3 separate regions of the Homo sapiens genome follow, and regions 1 and 3 are each linked to region 2. The links come from fine-mapping of genetic effects on gene expression. A gene starts in region 2. Each other region holds a variant in brackets. All regions are shown on one strand. Distances are between the middles of the regions. Region 1 overlaps ELAPOR1 (endosome-lysosome associated apoptosis and autophagy regulator 1). Region 2 holds the start of ELAPOR1 (endosome-lysosome associated apoptosis and autophagy regulator 1). Region 3 overlaps WDR47 (WD repeat domain 47).

Region 1 (2,761 bases), 71 kb before region 2:
GGGAACACAGGCTTTGGTCTGACCCAGCATCTAAAGGCCCCGGCAGTGGTCAGGCCAAGGCAGACACCCGGGCTTTCAGGCAGCAAGCACGGTACTGACCCAGAAGGCCTTGGCGTGAGCCCAGGGAGGGAAGAGAATGGGGCAGAAGGGAGGAAAGACAGCCACATTCAGTCACATGTTATGAACAGGAGGGAGAAGAGCAGCAGGATTAATTGTCTGCCTTTTATTAGTGAGTTGGCTGAGACCAAGAAAATGAAAATAAATGTTCACAAGGTCATACAGAATACCAGACACCACAGAACTGAGTCTAAGGTGCAACTGACAAGACACAGCCATTCTCTCTTGGCTGCTGGAGAAGGGGATGATGCCCCAAATACGTGGGGGAGGTGGTGTTGGTAAGAGATGACTGTGCAAAATATTCATTGTTAAGGACCAGACTTTAACCCATGCTTAGTTAGGAAAGGGAGAATTCAGTCAGCCGCCCAGCCAGCAAATGTTTATGCTCCCTAAGAGCCAAGCATCATGCTTAGTGCTGAGTGCAGAATGCCCAACTCCTAGTTCTATCCTCTTGAGAATCTCTAGCTTAGGGATACAGACAGCTCAGCCAGATCCTTCTCCGTGCACCTCAAGCCCTTCCCTGCTCACTTACACTGTTTCTCCACCCACCTGGCCCAGCTGCCGCCTCCTCTCCTGCTGTGTCTGCTGCCTGGAAAGCTCCACGGCTCCTCCCTCATCTCCTTCAGGTCTCTGCTCAAATGTCACCTCCTGAGAGGACATCCCTACCCTTCTAAAATAGTGGCACCACCCTCCTTCATTCTCTCTCTCCTAATCCTGGTTTTTTTTTTTCCTTCCTACCACTTACTACCATTTGCTATATTATATACCCATTTGTTGTCTATTATCTCTCTCTCCACTCCCTCCCCAACAAGAGTTAAGCTCCATAAGGGCTAGATGTTCCCTCAGTTTTGTTAAGTGATGCATGCCTAGCACCTAGCACCGTGCCTGGCACAGAGTCGCTCCTCGATAAATATTTGTTGACTGTTGAACAAATGGCCTCCTCTGAGAGGCTTTCTCTGCTGCCCCCACCCCAAGTCCTGGTCGCTTCTCTTCTGGGCTCCCCCAGTTCCCTGCACATCCCTCTGGTTGCCTTGACTGGGCCCGTTTTTCTCCTCTCTCCAGCCTCTCATACAGGACTGTGAGCTCCCTGGGGGCAGGAGCTTGTTTCAGTCGTCTCTGACTCCCCAGCCTATAGTGCCAGGCCTGACATATCAGTCAGCCTCAAAAAATGCTTGTTGACTCAGTGACAGTGTAGACTAGGAGGGAAAGTTCTTTTCTGAAGCAGAAAGCCTGGAGGAAAGAGAAGCAGCAGAAACGGAACAAGTCAGACCATAGGCAGGAATCCATTCCCCGTGCCAGCCCACAAAACAGTGCCGAGGGGGTGAGCCTGAAGAGCCCCGGGAGGAC[A/G]TTGTGTACGGACAGGCAGGCTCTGCCGGAGTGGCTCGGCAAATAGAAGAAACCAAGCAAGAGAGAATGAAGTGGGTTTTTGAAACAGAACATATGTGCATAAACAGTGAAACAAACGCTGCAAAAACAGTTTCTGACCGGAAAATGAATGAAGAGGTCTCGTTTTGCCCCCCACCCCACCTAGCCCTAGGGTCACCTCAAAGGTCTGTGGGGTTTTAACTAGTGCCAATGTCATTGACTGCTGAAGTTCCAAATGGTGGCAAACCTCAGGGAGTGGGAGACAGTCCATCTGGGGCTAAGGGGCTCCAAGACTGTACTACCCACCTCTCCGTTGGCATCGCAGGCCGTGTGTGTGTAGAAATAATCTTTGTCTGTGCAAGCTGGGCGCACGTTACAGGAAGAAGATCCTTTCTCTAAATTGCCAAAGCAAGAAGAAATATTTGGAGTTACATAAGAAAGCTGAGCTCCTGGCCTCTTCATGGCCCTGTGACTCCCAAGTCCCTGGGTGCATTGCCACACAAATATTGCCGGAAGTAGAAAATCCTGCACACTCACCCTTCCCCTTGTCTCAATAGTGTCATTTCCAGTTCCCCAACCCTGCTCAAGCTTCCCTTTGCACCTGTTCCAGGTGCTGATGAGAAACCACTGTTTGCCGCTTCCCGTCCCCCGCCCCATGGGGCAAGGGAGGGAGAAGTGGCCTGGCCAAAGGACCAGCAAGGAGGGTAGACGGAAACAGCTTCTTGCAGGTTAACCACTGCCAACCTAAGTTCCCTGAAACCTGGGGAGGTTCAGAGAGTTCACCATCTTCCAGGTGCCTTAGTGTCTTGACTCTGGGTGTGGTTTTTCTACTCCTGAAGTGTTGAAGTAAAACATGATTTTGCTTTCATACTCATTCCAAGCCTTTCTATGAATGTTCTAATATATGCCTAGAATGAAGGCCTTCCACCTTGGAAATTTCCTTTTCTTCATGCAATCATTCTACACAAACCAGGTTTGTAATTTCCTTGGACTCCACCTAACACATAAGGTTCTTCCCACTTGCCTCAACCCAAGCATCCCAACACTATCTTTATTATTATTATTATTGAGATGGAGTTTCACTCTTGTTGCCCAGGCTGGAGTGCAGTGGCACGATCTTGGCTCACTGCAACCTCCGCCTCCCAGGTTCAAGTGATTCTCCTGCCTCAGCTTCTTGAGTAGCTGGAATTACAGGCATGAGTCACCATGCCTGGCTAATTTTGTATTTTTAGTAGAGACGGAGTTTCTCCATGTTGGTCAGGCTGGTCTCGAACTCCTG
Region 2 (2,761 bases):
TAAAGAAAATACATCTATATATATATTCTAACCTCTCAAAACCTTAGTCAAGCTTGATATTTGGGATTAAATTTACAGAGCTAGATGCTTGACTTTTTATGAAGTCCTTCACATTTCACAGAAATAACAGAACTTTTATTTTGCCTTCCCCAACGTAGTTCTTGTAAATATCTTATTGTTGCCTCTGCCATATGGTTTCTAAAAAAGTTGCTCAGAGCACAACCAAATATTGTTATTTCAATAACATAGAAATGACTTAGTTTTGTTGCTGCTAGTGCCCTTTTATGTTCCTCCAAGATGACTTTTCAAAAGCTATTTTTGGTTATAAGAGATTGACTACCTATTGTCTGAATTCTGCTTCCAACATATTGGAAATACCTTGAAAAAGACTTTGACATATGTTAAGTCAGAGAAGGAGACTAGAGGTTGGCAGAACACAAGATATTGAAGAACTCAAAATCTGCAAAAAGGTGAGTCGTGTACTGTCAGGTACACTAAACATAGTACGCTGCGGGGAGGCCAAGCTATAAGGAGGAGACACATTTTACAGTCTGCACTAACCGATGTTTAATAAACAAGGAACTAGAGAGCTGGAATCCTATCATCCCTCTCGCACATCTCCCACCTTCACACTCCGTTTTGTGTAGCCATGATAAAACCACTTCGCTCTGATACTTTTTTCTGGCCTTCCTAACTCCTTTCCTCTCCCACTACTCTTCTTTCCTCTTCCTATTTTGCTTCTCTGTGCATAATCTTTTCTTGTCAACCACTTTTAAGGTGAGTTCATCCTAACTGGAAAATAACTCGTCTGCCTCCCTCATTCTGAGTTCAGGTACCCAGGTAGCTCCCCTTCTTGGGGCTGGGACCTTTCTCGCTGAGCTCAGCATCCCAATCTGTGAGGATGATCTATCCGTGAGTCCTCCAATGTGCTGGCCTCCTCATGACGCCAGACTGGCTCCTCTTCCCTCCCCCCACGCCTCATCCCCAAAGAAATCTAAACTCCGTGGCGTCTGAAACTCTCTGCGCCTGGGTCCCCAAGGTCTCCGCCTGGATCCAAGACTTTTGTGACCAAAGCGGGATCGGGTAGGGGGGCGGCAGTACCTCTTTGCAGGCATGAAGCTCCGGTCCCGTTCCCTGGGTCACCTGGAAGGCGGTCCCAGCCCAGAGCAGCAGCCGCCACAGCCGGGGTATGCGCCTCTCAGTTCTTCCCCTGACTCTGGCGGAGAGATGGTGGCTGTGCCCAGGCTCAGCCATAGCGTTGTCCTGAGTGAGCGGCAGTAGCGGCTCAGGTGCTGCGGCTGCTGCTTCTGCTGGCAGAAGGCGGAAAAAAAGGGGAGGGAGGTACACAGGCGGAGGATGCAAGAGGCCAGGCTCGCTTCAGTCACCTCCCTGCGGCTACGCCAACACCGCCCATCCTTCCTCCTCCCTCTGTCCTCTCCTCCTACCCACGTCGCCTTGACAACCGCCTCCTCTCTGGCTCCGCGCGGGTGGGGCAGGGACCACGCGCGCCTCTGCAGCTCACCTGCGGGTCGCCATGGCAGCCGCCGCCGCTGGTGCGCGCGGCGTGGGCGCGGGAGAGCGCGCGCCCGGGGTGCGCAACCGGCCCAACAGGCAGGCCCGGGGCTCGTGTGAAGAACACAGTGGAAGCATCCTCCAAGCCAGCCAACAAATTTCCGTTTTCTACTGCCCTTTCGGGCCAGGGGTTATTTTATGAGCATCTCCGATGTTGCACACGTGGCGTGTGAACCGAGAGAAAGAAGATGGAGAGATCACCCTCCAGACGTCGTCGCCTGGAAGAGGCCCCAGTACGTGTTCCCTCCTACGAAGGCCACTCCTGGAGATCTTACATCCCGCCAAATCCATCCGTGCTTTTACAACCGGCTAGAAGAGAAGCCCTGACACTGTAGTTGATCCGAGTTTAAGCGAGGAGTTTGCCTTAGCCGCAATTTCCCAAGCGCCGCACGTGGGCCTCTCTCTCTCTCTCTCTCTCTCTCTCTCTCTCTCTCTCTCTCTCTCTCTCTTTCTCTCTCTCTCTCTCTCTCTCTGAGACAGGGTCTCACTCTCTCGCCCACACTGGAGTGCAGTGGCGCGATCTCGGCTAACTGCAACCTCCGCCTTCCGGGTTCAAGAGATTCTCCTGGATTAGCCTCCCGAGTAGCTGGGACTACGGGCGCGTGCCACCAAGCCCAGCTAATTTTTTTCCTACTTTTTGTAGAGACGGGGTTTCGCCATGTTGCCCAGACTGGTCTCGAACTCTTGGGCTTAAGCGATCCGCCCGCCTCCGCTTCCCAAAGTGCTGAGATTACAGGCGTGAACCACCGCGCCCGGCCCTCTTTGGTCTCTTGACATCCTCATTCTCTCATGGCTTTGAAAGCCTTTTGTTAGGTGCGAGGGAGAAGGAAATTTCTGGGTCATCTTTCAGGACTTCTTTCCTCAACTGAAGTCTTTTGCAGAAGTCCTGATGGTGAGCAGCCAGCACTTTTCCGCCGAGGCTCAGGAGTGCAATTCCAAGTCTCGGGCCCGCTCAGCGGAACGTTCCCTCTGCAGTCCCCGGAGCTTCCTCCCCAGGGGCCTCCCGTGGTCAGCCGCCAGGTGGCGCCCTCCTCTGAGGGAATTCCTCTGTCATAGATGGCTGGGCAGTTGCCTGGCAACCGAAACCAGCGCTCCAAACAATTGGGACCCGGGATCTTATGCCAGTGAGGCTGTGCTGCGGCTGAGCGGGCCTCCCATCCCTCTTAAAAGAGTTAGGCATTTAGCCATG
Region 3 (2,761 bases), 130 kb after region 2:
CAAAACAAAACAAACAATTGGCTGGTGCGGTGGCTCACACCTGTAATCCCAGCACTTTGAGAGGCCGTGGTGGGCAGATTGCTTGAGCCCAGAAGTTCAAGACCAGCCTGGGCAACATGGCGAAACTCCATCTCTATTTTTTTTTAATTAAAAAAATTAAAACTTTTTAAAAAAGGAAAGCAATAATGCTGCACTTTAAAAGAATCATCTAAAGAATACAGAAATGGCCCATGGACATGGACGTTAACATGAACATAGTAAAATGGAATTTCCAGATTATAAACAATGGAAGATAGAAGAAACACCATTAGAAACTATCCAGGAGAAGCTGGCTGCAGGAGGGCTAAGGGATCTATGGGGCTGTAATGAAGCTTAGAGAAACATGGGTGACTTTGCAAACAATGTTTCCTCTGATGGTGCATTATTAAAAGGATTCAAAGATTTGCTGCATTTGTGGTAGCTGTAGGGGTTTAATATTACCTGGTGTCCCAGAGTAAAGATAAGAAGCATCACTGATGATAATACCTGGAAGTATCTTAGTGGTTTCTTAACTCTCCAAAATAAGATTTCTTCACTGTAGCCTACTTGTCTGTGTGTTTGCCTCTTAAAGGATATTAGTAAGATTTAATAAAGTAAGAAAAACATAGAGAAAAGAATATATGGTTATTGGCAGTAAACCTAACATGATCCAACAAGAATAATAAAGTTCAAATGAATTTAAAATGGGAGAAAGATGAATTCTTTCAAATTCATTTTTTTAATAGGATAACTAATATTCATTCTTTCCATAGGATGACAAATCAAAAAAGCAGTTTGTTTGTATTAATATCCTAGAAGACACACAAGCTGTTAGAGCAGTGGCTTTTCATCCAGCTGGAGGTTTATATGCTGTTGGTTCAAATTCAAAAACTCTGAGAGTATGTGCCTATCCAGATGTAATTGATCCAAGGTAAGGATCAATGATTTGTGCTGCCATTCTTACCTTAGTTTTTAATTTAGCCGTATAGGTTCCTTTTTCAGAATTGCCATTCAGTAGTGTTTCAAATCTTACTTTCTTTCCTTCGATTAAACTTTATTTTCTGTTATAAAATAACTGTTTTTACTTTCAGTGCTTAGGAAATATACTTAAGTCATTAACTTCATAATTTTTTCATAAAATGTTTTTGATTACA[A/T]CATTGCTCATTTATGGCTTTAGACTTCTTTATTTCCATGGCTTTTGTATTTTGTTTTTTATCTGAAAAGTCTTTATATAGTAGACCCCCCTTATTTGCAAGGGATACATTTAAGAACCCCAGTGGATTCCTGAAACCTTGGCTGGTACTGAACCCTACGTATACTGTGTTTTTTCCTATTCATACACACCTATTTATAAATTATGTATGTAATTTACATATAACTCTTACTCTTTTACACCTCTTAAGACTTTTTAATTATAACCCTAGTTTGAGAAACAGGGGTGGGATTTTTCATTTATTTGCATTTTTTTTTTTTTTTTGCTATCTCTATGTCTGAAACCAATAATTTAGGCTTTTGGACTGTGGTAGCATTTAATGATTGGGAAAGGGAATATAATAAGGTCCATGTTAATTGATAGTATTATAATTTACTGGTGCTCACTGCATTATTTAAGTCGAAATACTTAAGAAAGAATGGCAAAATTCTCTATAAGGGAGTGAGAAATAGCAATAATTATGGAGGTAGAACCAAAGACTTATATGTTTAGGGTTAACTTGAACTTAAGGTAACTGTTTCTCATCTTTTGTATTTCTTATACAGACACAGATGTTTCATAGGCTGTGAAGAAACTGATTTGAAAATAAATACATTTATTTAGCAAATATATATTTTGGGCTCCTATGTGCTAGGTACTATAGTTGTGTGTAAAACAAACATGTTTATTGGCTTCATGGAACTTCTTGTTTAGTGGGGAAGATGGATATAATGCAAATGAACACAAATATACATTTTGGTAAATGTTATGAAGAAAGATTACAACGTGCTGTGAGAATAAAATGGGGATGGAGTAGGGTGCAAACTGGCGAGTCAGAGAAAGACTTCTTTGAGGAAGAGGCACTAAAGTTGAGATCTAAGGAGGAGTAACCTAGCTATGTAAAGAGAAGGGAGAAGAGAATAATATAGAGGGAACGTGAGGTGAGAAAGAGCTTGGCTTTTTTTAGGAACTGAAATAAATTCAGATTGGTTGGAAAATTATGAGCTTGAGTTTGATAAGGCCGCAGAGATAGACATGAACTAAATTAGGCAGAGCTTTCTAGCCATTTTATATTTCATGCTGAGTGCAGTGGGACACCACTGAAAGTAGCAGATCAAGTGTAAATGTATTTTGAGATGATGACTCTGCCTGTGATTGGATGGCAATAAGAGGAGACACTGGGAGAGAGGGAGGAAGCTGTTTGTATTTGATGGTAATGTGATGGCAGTGGAGGTGGAGCAAAGTGGGTGGATTTGAGAGGTATAATCCATTTAAGGAAGGAATCGGTGGGACTTGGTGATAATTGGTTGTGCAGCTGAAAAGAAAATCTTTTTATCTGGTCTGTTCTCTAGATCAGTTTTTTGGGTTTTTTTTGTTTTTGTTTTGAGACAGAGTCTCACTCTGTCGCCAGGCTGGAGTGCACTGGCACGACCTCAGCTCACTGTAACCTCCACCTCCTGGGTTCAAGTGATTCTCCTGCTTCAGCCTCCTGAGTAGCTGGGACTACAGGCATGCACCACGATGCCTAGCTGATTTTTGTATTTTTAGTAG

Evidence for each region. PIP is the estimated chance that this variant, and not a neighbour inherited with it, causes the effect.
Region 1: its variant is the best candidate, but not a certain one, in a credible set for the expression of ELAPOR1 in whole blood (TOPMed, PIP 0.60).
Region 3: its variant is the best candidate, but not a certain one, in a credible set for the expression of ELAPOR1 in whole blood (INTERVAL, PIP 0.52).

What each region holds. Positions count from the first base shown.
Region 1 is chr1:109,184,161-109,186,921 of GRCh38, reverse strand. ELAPOR1 (endosome-lysosome associated apoptosis and autophagy regulator 1) reads right to left here. Exons shown (of 22, transcript NM_020775.5): 8 at 1,789-1,877. Among named protein-coding and RNA genes, the nearest start is that of SARS1, 28 kb to the left of the region's middle. The variant A/G (reference allele first, on the strand shown) is at 1,465.
Region 2 is chr1:109,112,677-109,115,437 of GRCh38, reverse strand. ELAPOR1 (endosome-lysosome associated apoptosis and autophagy regulator 1) reads right to left here and starts at 1,323. Exons shown (of 22, transcript NM_020775.5): 1 at 1,102-1,323. The coding sequence starts at 1,254. It overlaps CFAP276 (cilia and flagella associated protein 276), which reads left to right and starts at 2,691. Exons shown (of 5, transcript NM_001245025.3): 1 at 2,691-2,761. The coding sequence starts at 2,759. RefSeq lists a silencer at 1,502-1,571.
Region 3 is chr1:108,984,711-108,987,471 of GRCh38, reverse strand. It overlaps WDR47 (WD repeat domain 47), which reads left to right. Exons shown (of 15, transcript NM_001142551.2): 10 at 792-949. It also overlaps the pseudogene LOC107985160. Among named protein-coding and RNA genes, the nearest start is that of CLCC1, 23 kb to the right of the region's middle. The variant A/T (reference allele first, on the strand shown) is at 1,173.